Linked DNA regions of Homo sapiens. The protein of the gene in region 3 purifies or fractionates together with the protein of the main gene of each other region. This does not show direct contact. Each region holds a gene or a part of one and is shown on either strand. Other genes may lie near its edges.

Region 1 (4,802 bases), on a different chromosome or scaffold from region 3:
TTAACATCCGAAGCCTCTGTACCTAACTGTGCCATATTGCCTGTGTTCATCATCAAGATATAGGGCATTAGGTAAATAAGGTTATCTACCACCAGGGATTCTCCAGCTATGTACTATAATTTTGACAAAGCTTTTTAAAAACAAATTGCAATGGGGCTCTTTTTGTTCCAGTTTTTCAGGAAGAATGTTCTTAGTAGATAAAATTTTAAGTTTTCTTATTATAGGTTTTTTTTTTTAAACCTATGGCCTACAATTAGATGTCTGTACCAATGTAGCATAACATAGTGTATTTAGAGGAGACAGCATGGCATGGAGGATAATAGTTCCAGCTCAGGATTCAGACTGACCGAATTCAAGTGTTGACTGCCCCTTGTTAGTTGAGGCACTTGGTTTGACTTACTTAGCTTCAGACACTTAGCACAGTACTTTGAACCTGGTACGTTTTCAGTAAAAGTTTAACTGTTACTTAAGTTCTTATTTTTTAGTTTAACATTAATACTTAATGGTATTTCACATGATGATTTCTAAGTATTCCACTGCTTCAAGAAGTCTGAGAAATAGGGATAATTATTGATAAGTATGTCAGTTATTTTCAAGTTAATTTACATTAGCTTCTTTGCATTCTTTATCTGGATGTATTATTGAGTTAAAATATCCTCATTAAATCTGTTCTTCGAGTCCACATCATGGAGCCACCTGGTGGAAAGCTGGCTCATCACAAGGTCCTGTGAATAGCTAGCAGACAGACTTGCCTTGTACTGTAGGCTCTGGTATATACAGCTTGTAAGGTGAGGCTGAAAAGGCAGATGATGTAACCTTCTGGAAGTTGTGTTTACTGGAATGATTTTACCTAAGAAAAAATAATTCTTAATTTATAGACTGTGTTATGGACAGAGCATAACCTCTGTGTCTTTTTTTTTAGAAATTTCCCCCTTGCTTTGGATCTTGGTTGTGGAAGAGGTTACATTGCACAATATTTGAATAAGGTATATTTATTCAATGACCTAATTTACTTTGAAAAGTAACATTGGCTAATTTTAAAGAAAGACTTTCCTAATCAGTTTAGCTTGCAACATATTTAGATTTTAATTATATCAGAATTGTTAATTTGTTTTTTTTTTTAAGTGGTAGAATCAATGGTGGTTTTCTCCCTTCTTTAGAATTTTTTTCTTAAAGGGTTTTTCTCTGAATCCATTATATATTATGTTTCTACCGATAATTTATTTGAATCTATAGAAGATATATTTCTCTTTGTTCACATTTTTTTATAATTACCATAAAAATCAGATTGGCATTCATACAGAAAATGTGACTTTTAGCTAGAAAAATATTAATTTTATCAGTTGATTAGAAATCTTTCTGTATCATTAAATATAAGTAGCTTTATTAATGCTTATAACATTGTATTTTGCACTTTATAATTCAGACCATGAAGACATTAATTTATTCTTTTAGCTCCTATCTATACGATATTGTGCTGGACACAAAGATGAAAGTGGAATTTCTTTTTTTTTCTGAGATGGAGTCTCACTCTGTTGCCCAGGCTGGAGTACAGTGGCACGATCTCGGCTCACTGCAACCTCTGCCTCCCGGGTTTGAACGATTCTCCTGCCGCAGCCTCCCAAGTAGCTGGGATTATGGGGGTGCACCACTATGCCCTGCTAATTTTTGTATTTTTGGTAGAGATGGGGTTTCACCATGTTGGCAAGGCCGGTCTTGAACTCCTGCCCTCAGGTGATCCGCCTGTCTCGGCATCCCAAAGCGCTGGGATGACAGGCGTGAGCTACTGCGCCCAGCCTTAAAGTGGAATTTCTTTTTTTTTTTTTTGAGACAGAGTCTCGCTCTGTTGCCCAGGCTGGAGTGCAGTGGTGCAATCTCAGCTCACTGCAAGCTTTGCCTTCCAGGTTCATGCCATTCTCCTGCCTCAGCCTCCCGAGTACCTGGGTCTACAGGTGCCCGCCACCACGCCTGGCTAATTTTTTGTATTTTTTAGTAGAGACGGGGTTTCACCGTGTTAGCCAGGATGGTCTTGATCTCCTGACCTCATGATCTGTCCGCCTTGGCCTCCCAAAGTGCTGGGATTACAGGCGTGAGCCACCATGCCCAGCCTCATAAAGTGGAATTTCTACGTAAAATCTGCTTAGATAAAACCATAGACTTGGGCCAGGGTGAGGAAGGGAGTGGTGGGGCTCCTAAAACACTATTATTGGTAATAGTAAATGCCATAGAAATGGTGCAGTCATTAAAGTGCAACAGGAATTAGGGGAAAAGAAAAAATCAGTAGGAGTTCATGTGGTCAAGGATTCTCAGGGGGCACAGAATCTGACCTGGGATTTGAAAGAATTTGAGTTGGTGGTTCCTAGCATTGGAAATCAGGGCATGGCAGGAGGAAAGGCACAGAGGTAGAATGCTGTAGGGTGTGATATAGTGATGTTTAAGGAAGATTAATCTGGGGATGGCATTCGAGAAAGATTGAAGAAGAGAAAGGGTAGAGAAACCCATCAGAAGGCTGTGTTAAAGGCATTGCAGGCATGAGAAATAAAGGCCTGCCACCCATGCAGAGCCAGCACATATAAATGATGGGATGTATGAGAGAGACCTGGAAGTATCAACAGAACTTGATGACTGATCAGATATGGTAGGCAGAGCAAATCTATTCTTTTAGTAACTCAACGCCAAAAAACATTTTTATTGATTCCTCTTATATCCTTCTCTCCCACATCTAATCCGTCAGCAGCTTTTATTTGCATTTCAAAATATAACCAAACTCTTATGTCTTCTTGCCACCTTCCCCATCACCGTGCTGTTCAGCTATCATCGCCCCTTGCCTAGATTATTGCAGTAGCCTCCTATTGGTCTCCCTGCTTTACCTTTGTCCCTGACAGTCTGTTGTCATGGCAAAGTATCCTCGTAAAACACAAATCAAATCATTGTCAGTCCTCTGCCCAGAACTGTTAGTTTGTCATCTAGTTTAGTAGTAATCCAGAGTCCTAATCTATAAGACCCTCAGGATTCTGTTTTTTTATCATGTCTCTGATCCCATCTTCTTCCTTTCACTCCCAACTTTTCAGCAACCCTGGCCTCCTTGCAGTCTCTCAAACAGGCCAGAGCTTTGCTCTATGCTCTTCCCCAAGGTATCTGTGTGTCTTAGTTGCTCACCTGTCAGATCTTTACTCAGCTGACTTCATCAAAGATTCCTCCCGTGACTGCTTTAGAAAATAGTGCCCCTGCTTTCTGCCGACTAGTTGCTTTATTTGCTTCCATAGCACTTACAAGCTCCTGATGTATGTTTATTTGGTGTCTTTCTTCTCTTACTGGATTTGCTCATTTTTGATCACTACTAAATCCTAGTACCTAAATCACAATGAGTATTTATTAAATGACTATTGCAAGATAACTTTAGAGTTTAAGTTACACCTTTTGTGACTGGAAAATTCAGGGGATGTGATGTGGCAAGGAGCACGGGATCATTCCTGTTTTAGATATGTTGAGTTTGAGATGGCAGTGGAATATGGTAGTATAAATAGCTGGCAGGTAGTTGGAAATGTGGAACTGGAATTGGGATATTGAGGTTAAGAGCATTGACTTGAAGTCAGGGCTTCAAACTTCAGCTCTGCCACTGTCTGTGTATACTCAGACCTTGGGCCAATCAATTGCTCTAGACCTCAGTTTCTATAAAATATGATCAATAATACCCATCTCAAAAGGTTGGTAAGGGGATTAAGTGAGGCAAAGTAAACCTGTCAAAGGAGGCTATAGTTCTTATTTGGAAGTCCCTTTCAGAAGTGACAATTGAAGCCGTAGAAATAGGTAAACTCTCTGAGGCAAGAATATAGAAAAGAACCTTCTGCAATTGTACTTAGGGTTGGGAGAAAGAGGAAGAGCCAATAAAGATGCCAGGAATAGTAAGATGGAAAGTGTCTTAGTAAGGTATCTTTTGATTGTTGAAAGCAAAAATGTGCTGAAGCCAGTTTAAACACAGAGACATTTGTTACAGAGAGGCTCTTATGTAACTCAGGGATCCAGAAATAGAGCCAGGCCTCACAAGAGATGGGAACTTTGAAACACCATAACAATGTTCCTCCTGTTCGCATGCACTCTGGTACTACATGAATGCTGTCTGGTTGCCTTCATTCTTTTTACTCCCTGTAGTCTATCCATAGTAGTGTTCATCAGTGTGTGTGGCCCCATATGAATATGCTACACCCAAGGGTAGCTGAAGCTAGCTTAGGCCAGCCTGTGAGAGCCAATTGTTAGCATCTCTTCCCAACCTCTGTTCTGTGACATCATATTGATAGCTTGACATCAGCCCTGGTGGGAATATTTATACCATGGAAGTTGGCAAATGCTACAAAGCAGTCCCCAACCAAGAGCCAGCACACCACTGCCTATACCCTGAAGTCTAAATGTTCTTCCAACTCCAGGGACCTCTGCTATTATCTCGAAGTCTCTTAGTTCAAATTTTCAAGTGAGAGACAGGGATAGATAATCCTGTCCATCTAATTCTTCACCCCTCACAGGAGTGTGCTGGAGCTGGCTCATGAGAGCTATTGAGCACTCTTCCCAGCTCCATATTTAGCAACATCATGTTGGTAGCATGAAATCTTTCCAAGTTTCAGACAGGGAAGTGGGTGTGGGTAAAGTAAAAAAGGATTGGCTTCTCTAATAGAGAAGGGCAGCCAGAGTAGAAGCTTCTGAAGAAGCTTCTAGTAGGCTGTTGACAATGCTGTGCTTCAAAGAGGTCAGGTGAAGCAGGACTGAGAGCAGTGAGCACAGACTGCAGATAGTGTTAGCAGAGCAGT
Region 2 (4,802 bases), on a different chromosome or scaffold from region 3:
GGTTCAGTATTACTTGGCCAAGCCCCTAAGTTCTTAAACACTGCTGTGCATTGAACTATCTGGGAAGAATGTAAAAATCCCAATGACCAGAGGGCACCATGGCTCATGCTTGTAATCCCAGAACTTTGGGAGGCCAAAGTGGGTGGATCACGATATCAGGAGTTCAAGACCAGCCTGGCCAATATGGTGACACCCAGTCTCTGCTAAAAAAACCACAAAAATTAGCAGGGCATGGTGGCGTGCGCCTGTAGTCCCAGCTACTTGGGAGGCTGAGGCAGGAGAATTGCTTGAACCCATGAGGCGGAGGTTGCAGTGAGCCAAGATTGTGCCACTGTACTCCAGCCTGGGCGACAAAGCAAGACTGTCTCAAAAACAAACAAACGAACAAACAAAACCAATGACCAGGCTGTACCTCAAACCAATTAAAGCAGAATCTTTAATTGGCTTTAGTAATGTTTAAAACTCCCCAGGTAATTCCAATAGGCATTCAAGTTTAAGAACCAGCACCTCAGATGATTATTATAAAGATTAAAAAGCTGAATAAATGTGAAAGTGCTATGCAAACTGAAATCCTACATTATCACTCTTATTTTTTCATATGCTCAACAATTGCTTCTCAATATGCTCAACAATGTGATTGCTCAACATTGCTTCTTATTATTCATTCCTTTCTTCTGACTTCATTTCCTTCTTTCTAAAGTACAACTTATGGGTTCTTTAAGTGACAGAACGTGACTGGAAAACTCAATTTCTGTGTGCAAAATAATTTCATGCTCATTCTTGAATGATAGTCTGACTAGCTGGAGAACTCTGGGTTAAAGTCACAGTCATGAGCCTCTTAATGCTTTGGCCAACAATATACTGTGTATCTGACAGTAGTCAGAGCAACAGGCTACACTAAATAGCCTAGGCATGCAGTAGGCTGTACCATCAAAGTTTGTGTAAGTACACTCCACGATGTTCAAACAATGACAAAACTGCCTAATACACATATTACAGAATGTATCCTCATCATTTTAAGTGACACATGACTGCATTTTCTCTGAGCATTTCACTAAACGCTGGCCTCAACTGTTGTGTTATTGGGGAAGTAGCTGTCAAGTCTACCTGCTAATCCTCAGTAGGTAATCTGTTCCCCGAGGTTGCCTGTAGGAGTTTGTCTTTGCTTCGTGTCCAGTAGTTTCACAGCAACTTGTACAAGTGGAAGAAGGGGGACACTGCTTGGAATTCTGGGGGGATGGTTCTTTACTCTGAGAATATAGGTCTTTCATCAACTCTCGAAAATTCTCAGCCATTATTTCTTTGAATATCGCTTCTCCTATACTCTCTCTAGTCTTTCCTGGTAAGTTCATGTATATGTATACGTACATTTGTGTGTGTGTGTGTGTGTGTGTGTGTGTGTGTGTGTGTGTGGATGTGCATACACACAAACATACTGAACCTTCTCAGTCTACCCTCCAAATGTTAATATTTCTTTCATATTCCCTCTTTGATCTTTCTGTGCCACATTCTGAGCAATTTCCTCAGTATAGTGTAGTCTGATTAAAACAGGTTAACTCTAGTCCAATTGCATGGGTCAGAATTCTGATTCCACCATTTATTAGCTGTGTGACTTTGGAGAAGGTTACTTAACCTCTCTGTGATTCAGTTTCTTCATTTGTAAAATAAAGAAAATAACAGTGCTATCCTCAAAGGATTACTGTGAGAATTAAACAATATATGTTAAGTGTTTACCACAGTGCCTGGTACTTGATGAGTAAATAATCTCTTTTTTGTTTTATTGGTTGTTCTGTTTAACCAGTCCATTGTGCGTGTTATTTTAACTTAGCAATGTTCTAAACAAAGTTTAATTTTGGTTTACAAACTGGAATAGATTTTCTATAGCTTCCAGTTTTCTTAAAGTTTTATAATAATTTTAGACTTACAGAAGAGCTGCAAAGCTAGTACAGAGTTCCTACATGCCATTCACCACCTTCTGCTATTGTGAACCTTTTACATAACCACAGTATAATAATAAAGAAATCAACTAAAATATCAACACTGGTACAATACTATTAACTAAACTACAGACTTCATTCCATTTCTCCAGTTTTTCCACTAATGTCCTTTTTCTGTCCCAGGATCTAGTATAGGATACTCTTGCTTTCCGTCTTCACGTCTTCTTAATTTCCTCCAATCTGTGACAGTTTCTTAGTCTCTCTTCCTTGACAGTTTTGAAGAGTGCTGGTCAGGTATCTTGCTGCATATTCCTCGATTTGGGTTTGTCTGATGTTTTCTCATTATAGACCGAAGTTACGGATTTGGAGGAAGAATACCTCACAGGTTATATATATGCCCTTCTCATTGCACCATATCAAGAGGCACATATCAGTCTTATCAATGTATTATTAATAGTGATGTTAACCTTGGTCATTGGGTAGAGGAGGTGCATTGTAAAGTTGCTATTTTTCCTTTTTCATACTCTACTCATCAGAAGTGAGTCAACAAGTCCAGCTCACACTCATGGAAAGTTTTAAACATTAATCACTGTATTTTTCATTTCTGGCATTGCTATTTGGTTCTTCTGTCATAGTCACAGTCTTCTCTTGTGGGTCTGATTTCTTCTAATTTTAATTATTTTCAATATACTTAATTTTGTATCTTTTCAGATTTTCACTGCATTACCTAAATCTTCTGGAGCACTAATCCTTCTGCTTGTGTCTGCTAACTAGTTCATAATGCATTGTTTCACTGTGTGTTTCTTAATTTTGGATTGTGACCTTATTACAGTGGGGCATTATGTTCAGGAATCCAATGGGAGCTAGAGTTTGAAAGTGTTCTTCCAGTGCAGCTCTGTGACTACTTCCGTCAAAAATAAAAACTGATTTGGTAAAGCTTTTTTAACTTTCTAATCCTGTGGGTTCCTGGATAACATAGGGAGTATAGACTCTAAACCTGTGGAATGTCCAGGTTGAAGGGCTTGATTATTCAGGAGAGGTTTTTGTTGTCTCTTGGTGATGACAATTTTTATTCTTGTCTATCCTTTTACTAAGGATACTGACATCTGAAGTTCTTAGCTTTAAGAAGAATCTCAGTTCAAACTCCCCACTGGGTGGACCCAAGATCTCACTTCCAGTTTTCACATGGGAGTTATAAATCCAAATCAGTAGGTTACCAGAATGAATAGTGACCCACTGAAAACAGCCATGGGATTAGTTCACAATATTTCTTCTTTAACTTAGGGCTTCCTCATTATTTCTGGCATCTGAGAATCTTTAAGTTGGATAGATTTTATCTGGCATTTCTAGGTATTTGTAACAGGATAATTTTGTTCCTTTAACCAACTAATTTGATAAAAGAAAAGTGTTTCCTGTCTTTTTTAACTGTTTACTCAGAAACAGAAAAAAAAAAATTATAAAAACACAGGTATAAATTTTGCTACCTGTTTTTCTTACCCTTTCCAATATTTCCAACAATAAATTCTGAAACCCTATTACATACACTAGAGATGTGATCAAGAACATCAAAGTCTTTCCCTTTTAATGATCTTTAGAGAAACAAAAATTAAAGAACTCAGTGCTAAGAAGCTGAGTGGAATATATATGTGAAACAGACAGATAAGATTCAGAAGGAACAGAGCCCTAAGTTAGGAATCAGGACTTTGAGATTCAAGTCCTACTCCTATGACTAAGTATCAAGTGACCTCAAAAATAAAAGGTTGTACTCAATGATCCCCAACATTCTACGATTCTGCTTAATTCATGAAGTTACACATATCGGATGTTCTTATTTATTTGCTCACTTGTCATTCAATCTGTCTAACATTGATAAGGAAGCTATTTGAATTTTTGGTCCACTTACTAAAATATCTTTCTAACATGGAAATAAGTATGATTATTACACTAAATATAAATTTTCTATGTGTCTTTCCTTTATTAATACTGTAAATGGCATTAAGACATTCATTTATAAATTTTAAATGCAAATTAAAAACAAATCTCTCCACTAACTTGGCATTTATTAATACAGAATTCACAATGTACAACTTTGTAAGAAATTAACAAGGAAAAAGCTGAACTATTTAGGGTACACTGTATACTACAAAGAAGGCAGAAATCAATTCATTTCCAATCCAGTATAATGGTCTCTGTATACTTTTTTAAAGTTTATATTTAGTTCTTTTGAAAATAATTTCCTGTACATATGAGTATGTGATTCTTAGACTTCTCACAATGTTTTATTAGAGAGAAAAGTAGACTTTTTCTCATATTTTACCTTTTTTCTGGATCTTTTTGAAGGCACAATGAAATCATTTTTCTAAATGATTTTCCATATTTTTTCAGCATTTCTTTATCTTGAACACCAGTTTCCAAAGAAGGAGGATCGTTCTGCAGTGTCAGCATTAAAACCTGCAAGAATTTTCAATATACTATAAACTTGTGATGACTCAGTAAAGTTTAACTATTGTGGTCAAGATTTTTCAATACAGGCACCCCCCGACCAACATACAAACATTTTATTTTCTGTAAGTTCATATCTGAATCAGTTGTTTAAAACCCAGAGTTATTACGTGTATTTCACGTAAATAATCTGCTGTAGATGGTTAGCTTCTCAACACACACACGCAATGGATATTATTCAGCCTTAAAAAGCAAGAAAATTCTTCAACATGCTACAACATGGATGAAACTTGGGGACATTACGCTAGCCATGCAAAGATAAACACTGTGTGATTCTACTTATATGAGGTATTGAGAGTAGTCAAAATCATAGAGACAAAAAGTGATTGCCAAGGGGCTAAGAATGGGAATCAAGAGTTACTA
Region 3 (4,802 bases):
ATGGCAAATGACTATTCTGTGATTCCTTTTATAAAAACATAATAATGCCACCTTAAGCTGAAGCTCCTAGTGGTTTGTGACAATGTAGTGATCCTATGAAAACACTGAAAGTAAAAATGTGAACACTATTAGCAGAGAACCAAACTGGGAGCGGACCAAACCAGGGCTGTGGCCTAGAGGTCAGCTGTTCACACTGGGGCCTGGAAGAGTAGGTTTGGGGTCCACTTCCTGCGTCTGCCCTGTATGGCTTCCTGTGTCACAGACTCCTGATTACTTTCTAAGTTTAGAAGAGGGAAAAAAATCCATAAATGCCTGTCTGAAATCCGCCTGCATGGTTGATATTCATGTATGGAAATGAAATGCAGGAGCATGTGACTCCAAATGTCATCATACCCTCAGACGTGGGATGTGGCAAGTCCTGAACAAGAGCAGGGGCCCCTCAGTGGTGTTTCCTGGGGACCAGACCCACACCCAGGGGTGACCCGCCCCTGGAGGTCTCACCTGGTGCATCTTCCAGTCCATACACCGTCAGAGGCCGGATGATTTTTATCCCTGGGGTATCCATGGGAACCAAGAGCACAGACTGCTGCCGGTGTCTTGGTGCATGTGGGTCTGTTTTTCCCATAAACACACAGAGTTGGCAACGAGGATCCAGGATGCCTGCCAGGAAAGGAGAGAGACAGACCCCATCATCTGACACCAGGGCCATCAAATCTCTACACACGTGGTCCTGGCCCAAGAAAGGCACAGTAAGGAAGCAGACAGAGCTCTTTAAGGCTCCATGTAATCAGATGAGCATCTGCAGACTGCTGACCAGAAATAAGAGCAAATTGGGTTTTGTCCCAGTGAGGAATGAATCCAACATCATAAGAGCAAGTTTTTAAAAGCATCACATAGAGTAGAAAATATAATTTAGAGACAAGAGGATGAAAACCGCTACTTGATCCCTGCCAGCTGGCTCGGCTCCCACAGGTGGTGCACACATAACGGCTCTGGGCCCGGGCCTTGGAATCAGGTGAACCTTTGACTCTGGGTTCTCTACTTGCTGGCTGGGGGCTCATACCCCAGGCAAGGGACCTAAGTCTGAGTGCGGTTTCCTCCTTTGCAAAATGGGGATGCTCATTCTTAATGTCCAGGGAGGTATGGGCTCCGGGAGGTAAGCTCCACGGCTACTTGTAGGGGCCCTGCAAAAGTAACACTGGACAATCCCTAAAAGTCAGGATTGTCATTAGCCCTTAGGATGTAACACACCTGATCGAGGAGCCAGGAAGCCACCAAGGAAGGGGAGCTGCCCAAAGCAGAATGAACAGCAGGAAGTGGAGAGATTCCTGGGGTCACATGTGCAGGGAGGCATCCGTCCATGTGTGGGCACCGGGGGACGTCCCTGCCCTGTGAAGTGCCACCTCTGAGAACAGTGTGCTCCACGGATTACCCTCCTATTCTCCCAGCTGCCTCTGCTGGGGGCGCTAAGTGACAGAATCTCCTTTGTGTCAACTTGAAAAAGCAGAGGCTCCTCCCAGGCATTGAGAGACGCGCCTAACAGCACAGACTCCCTGATGTGCATTTGGAAAGTGCATTTTAGGCCAAATACCTGTGATCCACCATTTGTGACCGTTTATGACATAGAAGCTGTCCTCCTCTCTGATGGAAGCCTCAATGTTGGTGGCATCTGAAGAGGCAACCTGAGTGGGGAGCATATTCCAGTCAGAGACGCCAGCAGACAGCCCGTGTTCCCTGTGGGGCCGACAACAACAGGGCCAGGCAAGTGGGTGGCAGCCCAGGCGACGTACCTGGGGCTCGGTCATAGCAAAACAGGAGCGGGCTTTCCCCTCCAGCAGAGGAATCAGCCAGCGAGCCTTCTGCGCTTCGGTGCCATACCTCACCAGCAGCTCCATGTTGCCCGTGTCAGGCGCAGAGCAGTTACATACCTGAGAAGGAAAAGGAGCGTGACCATGACTGTCATGTCCTCTTCTAAAAAAAACAGAGTCAAGCTCTGTCACCCAGGCTGGAGTATCGTGGCACGATCATGGCTCACTGCAGCCTCGACTTCCTCAGCTCAAGCCATCCTCCCATGCCTCAGCTTCCCAAGCAGCTGAGACTACAGGTATGCACCATCACACCCGATTAATTTTTTATTTTTTTGTACATACAGAGTTCTATGTTGCACACGCTGGTGTCGAACTCCTGGCCTCAAGTGATCCCCCACACTTCGGCCTCCAAAAGTACCGGGATTACAGGTGTGAGCCACCATGCCTGGCCTTCTCACATTAATATTTCAAGCTTCAAATTGGATGGGCATGGTGGCTCACGCCTGTAATCCCAGCACTTTGTGGGGCCAGGGTAGGTGGATCACCTGAGGTCAGGAGTTTGAGACCAGTCTGGCCAACATGGTAAAACCCTGTATCTACTAAAAATACAAAAATTAGCCAGGTGTGGTGGCACATGCCTGTAGTCCCAGCTACTTGGGAAGCTGAGGCAGGAGAACCACTTGAACCCAGGAGGCAGGGGTTGCAGTGCGCCAAGATTTCGCCACTACACTCCAGCCTGGGTGACAGAGCGAGACTCCATCTCAAAAAAAAAAAAAAGTTCAAGTTCATGCCAGTGCTTCTGAATCTGGTTTATCTGTTTAGGATTGAGTTCTTATGAAGATCAGGATGTTCCCACACACTGAGGAAAACTTTAAAGAAGGTACCTCGGGGGCATACAGGGACGTGCCCATGAGCTCACACAGATGTGCATATTCCACATTGGTCAGTCCTGCTCCGTATTTTTTCTCGGGATCAGCCTCTAAGGGTAGGAAAAGGTTCCAAAGTCCTTCAGCTTTGGCTTTCTCCTATCATGGGGAAAATAAGTCAGGAAACCACAGTGGAAGATTTCATTTTATTTTGAACCGTGGAAAACAATGAAAGGGATTGGAGGAAACAAGGCAGACAACCAAACATGCACGTGTGCCCAAAAAAATGATATGAGGAGCTGGGCATGGTGGCTGTGCCTGTGGTCCCAGCTACACAGGAGGCTGAAGTGGGAGGATCACATGAGCCCAGGAGGTTGAGACTGCAGTGAGCTATGACCACACCACTGCATTCCACCCTGGGTGACAAAGCGAGACCCTGTCTCAAAAAAAAAAAAAAAAAAAAAAAAGAGAGAGATGGTGGCTCACGCCTGTAATCCCAGCACTTTGGGAGGCCGAGGCGGGCGGATCACAAAGTCAGGAGTTCAAGACCAGCCTGAACAACATGGTGAAACTCCATCTCCATTAAAAATACAAAAATTAGCTGGGCATGGTGGCACGTGCCTATAATCCCAGTTACTCGGGAGGCTGAGGCAGGAGAATCGCTTGAACCTGGGAGGCGGAAGTTGCACAGAGCAAGACTCCGTCTCAAAAAAAAAGAGAAAAAAAGAAAAGTAGATGATGATTGCATTATGCTCCTGAAGATCTCAAGTAATTTCAAAACTAACACAATCCAAGGTTCACGTGATAAGGAACAGCGGGTGTTTCTGTTTATCAGCTGAAGTGACAGCACTGGGAGACAACACAGAAACTCAGCTCACAGTGGATCTGGCCCTCTAGCTGTGATATTACGGGTTCTCTAGAGAGAGATTTATTAGCTGATACAGCACTGTTTCAAATTTACATAATTCAAATACCCATCAGATAGGCCTAACCTGCCCTGGCTTTCTAAGGCCAAGCATTCCACTGCCTGGGCTGTGCAGTCACACCTGAGCCATCTGCCTGTGACACAGGCACAGCAAGAGCAAGAGATGGAAACTGAGTCATGAAGAGCTGGCTCTTTCTGAGACGATGGAAGCAAAGATCATTCAACTCGGAGCTCCTGTATCTTCACTGCCTGGGATGGTTCAGGTGAGCCCGGTGGGGTCGGGGAGGGTATGCCATGGTATTGGGGTCTTACCACCTCACCATGGCTGCTTTACCTTGAGGTCTTCGATCAGTGGGGAGGGGCTCCACCTGGCTGCTGAGGCCTGGTGACTCTGCAGCTCTGGCTCTGCAGGGTACACACGTTGCTCCATGAAGTGCTTCAGCCGGTGATACAGCTCTCTGACAGGTGGAGAGAGGCTCTCTGGAGAGATAACCAGACCTCCCCTTGAGGTATGAGCTGGGGAAGCTTCTGGAACGGAGCTATAACTCCTGCTGCCTGTGGGGCACCACTGGGACTGGGGCCTGGCCCACGTGTGGTAGGACCTTGTTAACGGATTTGTGAAGGGCATCTCTTTGAAAACCCGGAACCCTTCTTTGACTGCGAAATCCCACGCCAGGTTAGACACAAATTCGGTCAGCTTTCCAGTTTGTTCCGCATATGTGGAGCTTGCTTGCCCTAAGCAGAATCAAAGAAAAACAGTGATTACTCCCACACGACCCATCATAGGGATGTTAACATGTGATGACACTGTCACTTCAGCAGCTATTGCCATTTGCTGAGCACTTGCTAAGTACCAAACACTGTGCTAAGAGCCACTATAGCTCACTGAATCCCCAAAGCAATACAACTGCTTTCACCTGCACTTTGCACGCAAGAAAACTGAGTCTTAGAGAAGGAGGTGACTTGGACGAGCTGGAAGTTAGGGGGCTGGGGGCCAGAGTCCAACTTAGGTCTGCCTGCTCCCTGCTCTTGATCTCTGCTTTCCTAAAAGACTACATTTAATCAGTAACACCCCAGATCACCTCTGCCGTTGCCAGTGGGCTATAAGAAGTCCTGCATCCTAGACCACCCTTGCTACAAAATTGATAACAGCAATGCCACAACTGACTAAAGGAAGAGCCAACTTCTAGACACCACTGTCTC
Region 4 (4,802 bases), on a different chromosome or scaffold from region 3:
TTTGTCTCCCAAGCTGGGGTGCAGTGGCACCATCATAGCTCACTGTAGCCTTGACCTCCTGGGCTCAAGCAATCCTCCTGCTTCTGCCTCCCAAGTAGCTAAAATTTGACTTTAAAACAAATCTGTTGCTGCTTTTGTATTATTTTCATTCTTTAAATCACAGCATCCACAATCATTATGCCCCAAGAACAATGTTTGATGTTAGGGTCTCTGTCTTTGACAGATCTCATGACAAATGCTATAATTGAGAGGTTTTTTGTTTGTTTTGTTTGTTTGTTTGTTTGTTTTGAGACGGAGTCTCGCTTGTTGCCCAGGCTGGAGTGCAGTGGCACGATCTCGGCTCACTGCAAGCTCTGCCTTCCGGGTTCACGCCATTCTCCTGCCTCAGCCTCCCGGGTAGCTGGGACTACAGGCGCCCGCCACTGCGCCCAGCTAATTTTTTGTATTTTTAGTAGAGACGGGGTTTCACCATGGTCTCGATCTCCTGACCTCGTGATCCGCCCGCCTCGGCCTCCCAAAGTGCTGGGATTACAGGCATGGGCCACCGCGCCCGGCCTAATTGAGAGGTTTTTAAAAAGGAGTATAGAAAAGAGATATTTAACTCTGTGTAACGGAGTTGTGAAGGGCCTTGTAGAAAAGGTGGTATTTTAGCTGGGTCTTTGGGTCTTAAAGAATGAGGCATTTAGTAAAAAGTTTCAGTTGAGTTATTTCTGGAAAGTATTAGAGACCCAATTATAATGCAGTGGTAAAGAAATATGAATAACCATACTTGTTATGTGTGTTTTCTACTTCTTTTATTTTATTTTATTTTTTTTTTTTGAGACGGAGTCTTGCTCTGTCGCCCAGGCTGGAGGGCTGGAGTGCAGTGGTGCGATCTCAGCTCACTGCAAGCTCCGCCTCCCGGGTTCACGCTTCTCCTGCCTCAGCCTCCCGAGTAGCTGGGACTACAGGTGCCCGCCACCAGGCTGAAAATTGAAGTGGTAGTTGAATGATGCACTGAAATCATAACACATGGATCATTTTAAAAAATGACATCCACCTTGCCGTCTGCAGATCCTATCAACATCATTTTTAATCCAAAATGTGAAAATTAAGCCACAGTCTTCATTAGAGTTAAATAATAAACAAATAAACTACAAGGTGGCCAGGCAGGTCTATTAAAAATGCTTTGCTAAAATAAAGCCTTAAGAATACACAAATATTTTGTGAATTTTATAATGGATATTCAATAAGATACACTCTAGATTCAAGTGAAATTGTACATGACATCATGTTAAAGCTCAGTGTTATTCTTTTTTTTTTTTTTTTTTTTTTGCTCTGTCGCCCAGGCTGGAGTGCAGTGGCGTGATCCTGGCTCACTGCAAGCTCCGCCTCTTGGGTTCACGCTACTCTCCTGCCTCAGCCTCCCGAGTAGCTGGGACTACAGGCGCCCGCCACCATGCCCAGCTAACTTTTTGTGTTTTTAGTAGAGACGGGGTTTCACTGTGTTAGCCAGGATGGTCTCGGTCTCCTGACCTGGCGATCCAGCCCGCCTCAGCCTCTCAAAGTGCTGGGATTACAGGCGTGAGCCACCGCGCCCGGCCAGGCTCAGTGTTATTCAAAGTGAGTCATATTTTTGTCTGATGTTAAGAATGCAAGAAAAATATTAATTTTAAATAAAAATAATACTCACAATCTTCACACTCAGGCTTGAAACTCCATGATCATGAAGTTCATCCTCAAAAAGGAGAACTTCTTCAAAAAACTTAATCTGTTCTCTGGCTTTCAATTTTTCTGTATCTATATGATCTGTTGTAGGTACAACCTGAAAGAAAAAATTTTAAAGAGGAGCACATTAAAAAAAAAGTTGAGGAGCTACAGAGACACAGGAAAGCAGTCTTTTCTTTTCTTTTTCAATCAGTCTTTTCTACATAGCCAGAGCACACAGTTCTAAATTTGGGTGTCATTAGTAGATATAAAAGATCAGAATATGGCTTGATTCTGAAAACTGAAGACATTACAGATGCCCAATATTATAGCTTCACAAAAAAAGCAGTAAAAATTTATCATTTTTCATGCAAGTCATATTAAAATCAACTTCTGTTGTGACTATGAGAAAATTAATCAACTAAACATCAGTCAGTGTGATGAACGACTGCTATCATAGAAGGTCATAGAACATTTGTGCTGTGAAAGCCACTTTTAGGACATTCATATGGAACTTAAAAAATATTTTTCCATTAGAATGTTAGATATTTGCTCAACCTAACTCCCCAAAACCTACAACAAAATAAAGTGCTTTAAATAATGAGGTAAACAAGAACTTGTAGAGAAATTCTGAGGGAAACTCTTAGCATTGCAAAGAGCTTTGAATGAAGTTGGCAATTTTTCAAGGTATTATTTTGTAGCTCTAAGACATGCACACACGTAATCCAACAAAAGCATCAACAGTCCCAAGGCAGATCATATCAGGAGCTCATTAAACTCAAGTGTCTCCTGAGCAGCACCCAAGTATGAATTGTGATACTATTTTCTACCACACCTAATTTCACTACAAAATGCTCAGCTGTTTTACTCCTTGACAGGTTTACCATAAACAAACACAACAATGCTTGTCAAACCATAGATATTTAGTAAATGTAGCTTTACTTAAGCGTCATGATTAGGTGATTTGTTTTGACTCATGGACAAAATTAGCAGATGGAGAGTAATTTGAGATAACTAGATAAGAATCAGAAGAAAATTACAAAGGATGTTGTTTACAAGACTGCACAGATTTTGGGAGGAAATCTAAGGGAACGTTAAGTAATGTAGGGGGAAAAGATGCCATGAAAAGAAAGTGGCAGTTTGTATATGATTTCCAGGAGGTAAAAAAATGTCCATAATTCTTCCATGGTCACTTAGAGATAACACTTAGCCCTAAGCAGTTTTACTTCCAACTGTGTACGGAGCAGGTATAAGGCCACTCTTGAGGTGAAAACTGGGAGGGGAAGGGAGTTGGAGTGTAGGGGCAGGGCATATAACCAGTCCCCTGCATCACACATTAAGTTTATGATCTAGTTAAACAAAAGTTGGTCTGCCAACGAGGACTGCCTAAGGTTACACAACTGAAATTAGTGTTAAATACACACACTTGTAAATTTCGTCCTTTTTATTTGATTTTAGTTCAGAGGAACACATTTTTAACATCCTCCTTATAGATACTCCTGAATCCCCCAAAATTAATCATTATCTGAATTTTCTCATTAGTAAATTGCTTCATTAATGTTTCACATATGCCTTCAGTAAGTGATTGGTCAAAATGAATCTGTCAGTTTTTCCATTTACGTACTTGTTCTTATAAAATGAAAGACAAAGTCAAAAAACAAAGCATGAGTTAGAGATATCATATTTAACTTATTTATGCTATTGTCTCCATTTGCAAGGCTAAATATGTCTAAAACTTTATACTTTTCAGCTCTCTTCCTCAACTCCACATATCTCTCTCTGAACCCAGGGATCTAAAAAATACAACAAAAAAAAAATAACCAGCTAAATATAAAACATATGGGCTGGGCGCGGTGGCTTATGCCTATAATCCCAGCACTTTGGGAGGCAAGGCGGCCGGATCACTTGAGGTCAGGAGTTTGAGACCAGCCTAGCCAATATGGTGAAACCCCATCTCTACTAAAAATACAAAAACTAGCTGATCGTGGTGGCAGGCACCTGTAATCCCAGCTACTCAGGAGGCTGAGGCAGGAGAATCGCTTGAACCCGCGGGGCAGAGGTTGCAGTGAGCTGAGATCACACCATTGCACTCCAGCCTGGGCGACAAGAATGAAACTCTATCTCAAAAAAATAAAAAACATATGGAACAGTATTGGCAGAATAAGTAATCTAGACAAACCTTCTTGATGAAGACAATTTAAAAAGCTGGCTAAAAAAACCCAAAAACTTCCTAAAAGCATCAAATGGCCAAGGCAGTATGGAGTTACTGGGCTGAGATCTGGAAAGACTGGAGCCGAGAAAAGTAAGTCTGTACTTGGCTGGCTTTTGCCCTGAGGCATAGCACTGGCTGATCCAGAGAAGAAGCTGGGCTCTGCTAGCTTTTGGTGCCATCACTGCTCAGTGCTCACTAAGGACAAGGACCCTGGAGAATTTCCTGCTTCCTCCCAAATCAGAGATGACACCCTAAAGAGCTATAGTGATTTCAGAACTTTTTTTTTTTTTTCTTGAGACAGAGTCTCGCTCTGTTGCCCAGGCTGGAATGCAGTGGCACCATTTCAGTTCACTGCAACCTCCAGCTCCTGGGTTCAACCAATTCTTGTGCCTCAGCCTCCCAAGTAGCGAGGATTACACACACATGCCACAACGCTTGGCTAATTTTTTTGTGTTTTTAGTAGATACAGGGTTTTGCCATGTTGGCCAGGCTGGTCTCGAACTCCTGACCTCAGGTGTTCCGCCTGCCTCGGCCTCCTAAAGTATTGGGATTCAGGTATGAGCCACTGTGCCCAGCCTCAGAGCTTCTTATCTGCAGGCCCAGTACACCTCAAACTCTGGTCCTAGACCAAGGCAGGCAAACTAAGACATGCAGCTCACATCTGCCCTGTTACCTATTTTTATGGGCTGCAAGCTAATAATGGCTAAATAATTGGAGAAAAAAAATCAAAAGAAAAATATTTCATGACACATAAAAATTACATGAAATTCAAATTTCACTGTCCATAAAGTTTTATTAAAGCATAGCCATGCCCATTCATTTATATATTGTCTATGAGTGATTTAGACTATGATAGCACAGCTGAGTTGCTGCAACAGAGACTCTAAGGCCCACAAAGCCTAAA

Evidence for each region.
Region 1: the proteins of ACAD10 (region 3) and NDUFAF5 purify together in Homo sapiens (co-immunoprecipitation; one large-scale study listed by IntAct). This does not show direct contact.
Region 2: the proteins of ACAD10 (region 3) and OXSR1 fractionate together in Homo sapiens (co-fractionation; one large-scale study listed by BioGRID). This does not show direct contact.
Region 4: the proteins of ACAD10 (region 3) and TIPRL fractionate together in Homo sapiens (co-fractionation; one large-scale study listed by BioGRID). This does not show direct contact.

What each region holds. Positions count from the first base shown.
Region 1 is NC_000020.11:13,787,667-13,792,468, forward strand, and holds part of NDUFAF5 (arginine-hydroxylase NDUFAF5, mitochondrial), read left to right. Parts: intron 1-922; coding exon 923-986; intron 987-4,802. UniProt on the Homo sapiens protein: Arginine hydroxylase that mediates hydroxylation of 'Arg-111' of NDUFS7 and is involved in the assembly of mitochondrial NADH:ubiquinone oxidoreductase complex (complex I, MT-ND1) at early stages. May also have methyltransferase activity.
Region 2 is NC_000003.12:38,224,157-38,228,958, reverse strand, and holds part of OXSR1 (serine/threonine-protein kinase OSR1), read right to left. Parts: intron 4,389-4,802; coding exon 4,255-4,388; intron 1-4,254. UniProt on the Homo sapiens protein: Effector serine/threonine-protein kinase component of the WNK-SPAK/OSR1 kinase cascade, which is involved in various processes, such as ion transport, response to hypertonic stress and blood pressure.
Region 3 is NC_000012.12:111,744,175-111,748,976, reverse strand, and holds part of ACAD10 (acyl-CoA dehydrogenase family member 10), read right to left. Parts: intron 4,335-4,802; coding exon 3,934-4,334; intron 2,834-3,933; coding exon 2,693-2,833; intron 1,929-2,692; coding exon 1,791-1,928; intron 1,683-1,790; coding exon 1,592-1,682; intron 661-1,591; coding exon 502-660; intron 1-501.
Region 4 is NC_000001.11:168,188,371-168,193,172, reverse strand, and holds part of TIPRL (TIP41-like protein), read right to left. Parts: intron 1,805-4,802; coding exon 1,673-1,804; intron 966-1,672; coding exon of another isoform or gene 945-965; exon of another isoform or gene 778-944; intron 1-777. UniProt on the Homo sapiens protein: May be a allosteric regulator of serine/threonine-protein phosphatase 2A (PP2A). Isoform 1 inhibits catalytic activity of the PP2A(D) core complex in vitro. The PP2A(C):TIPRL complex does not show phosphatase activity.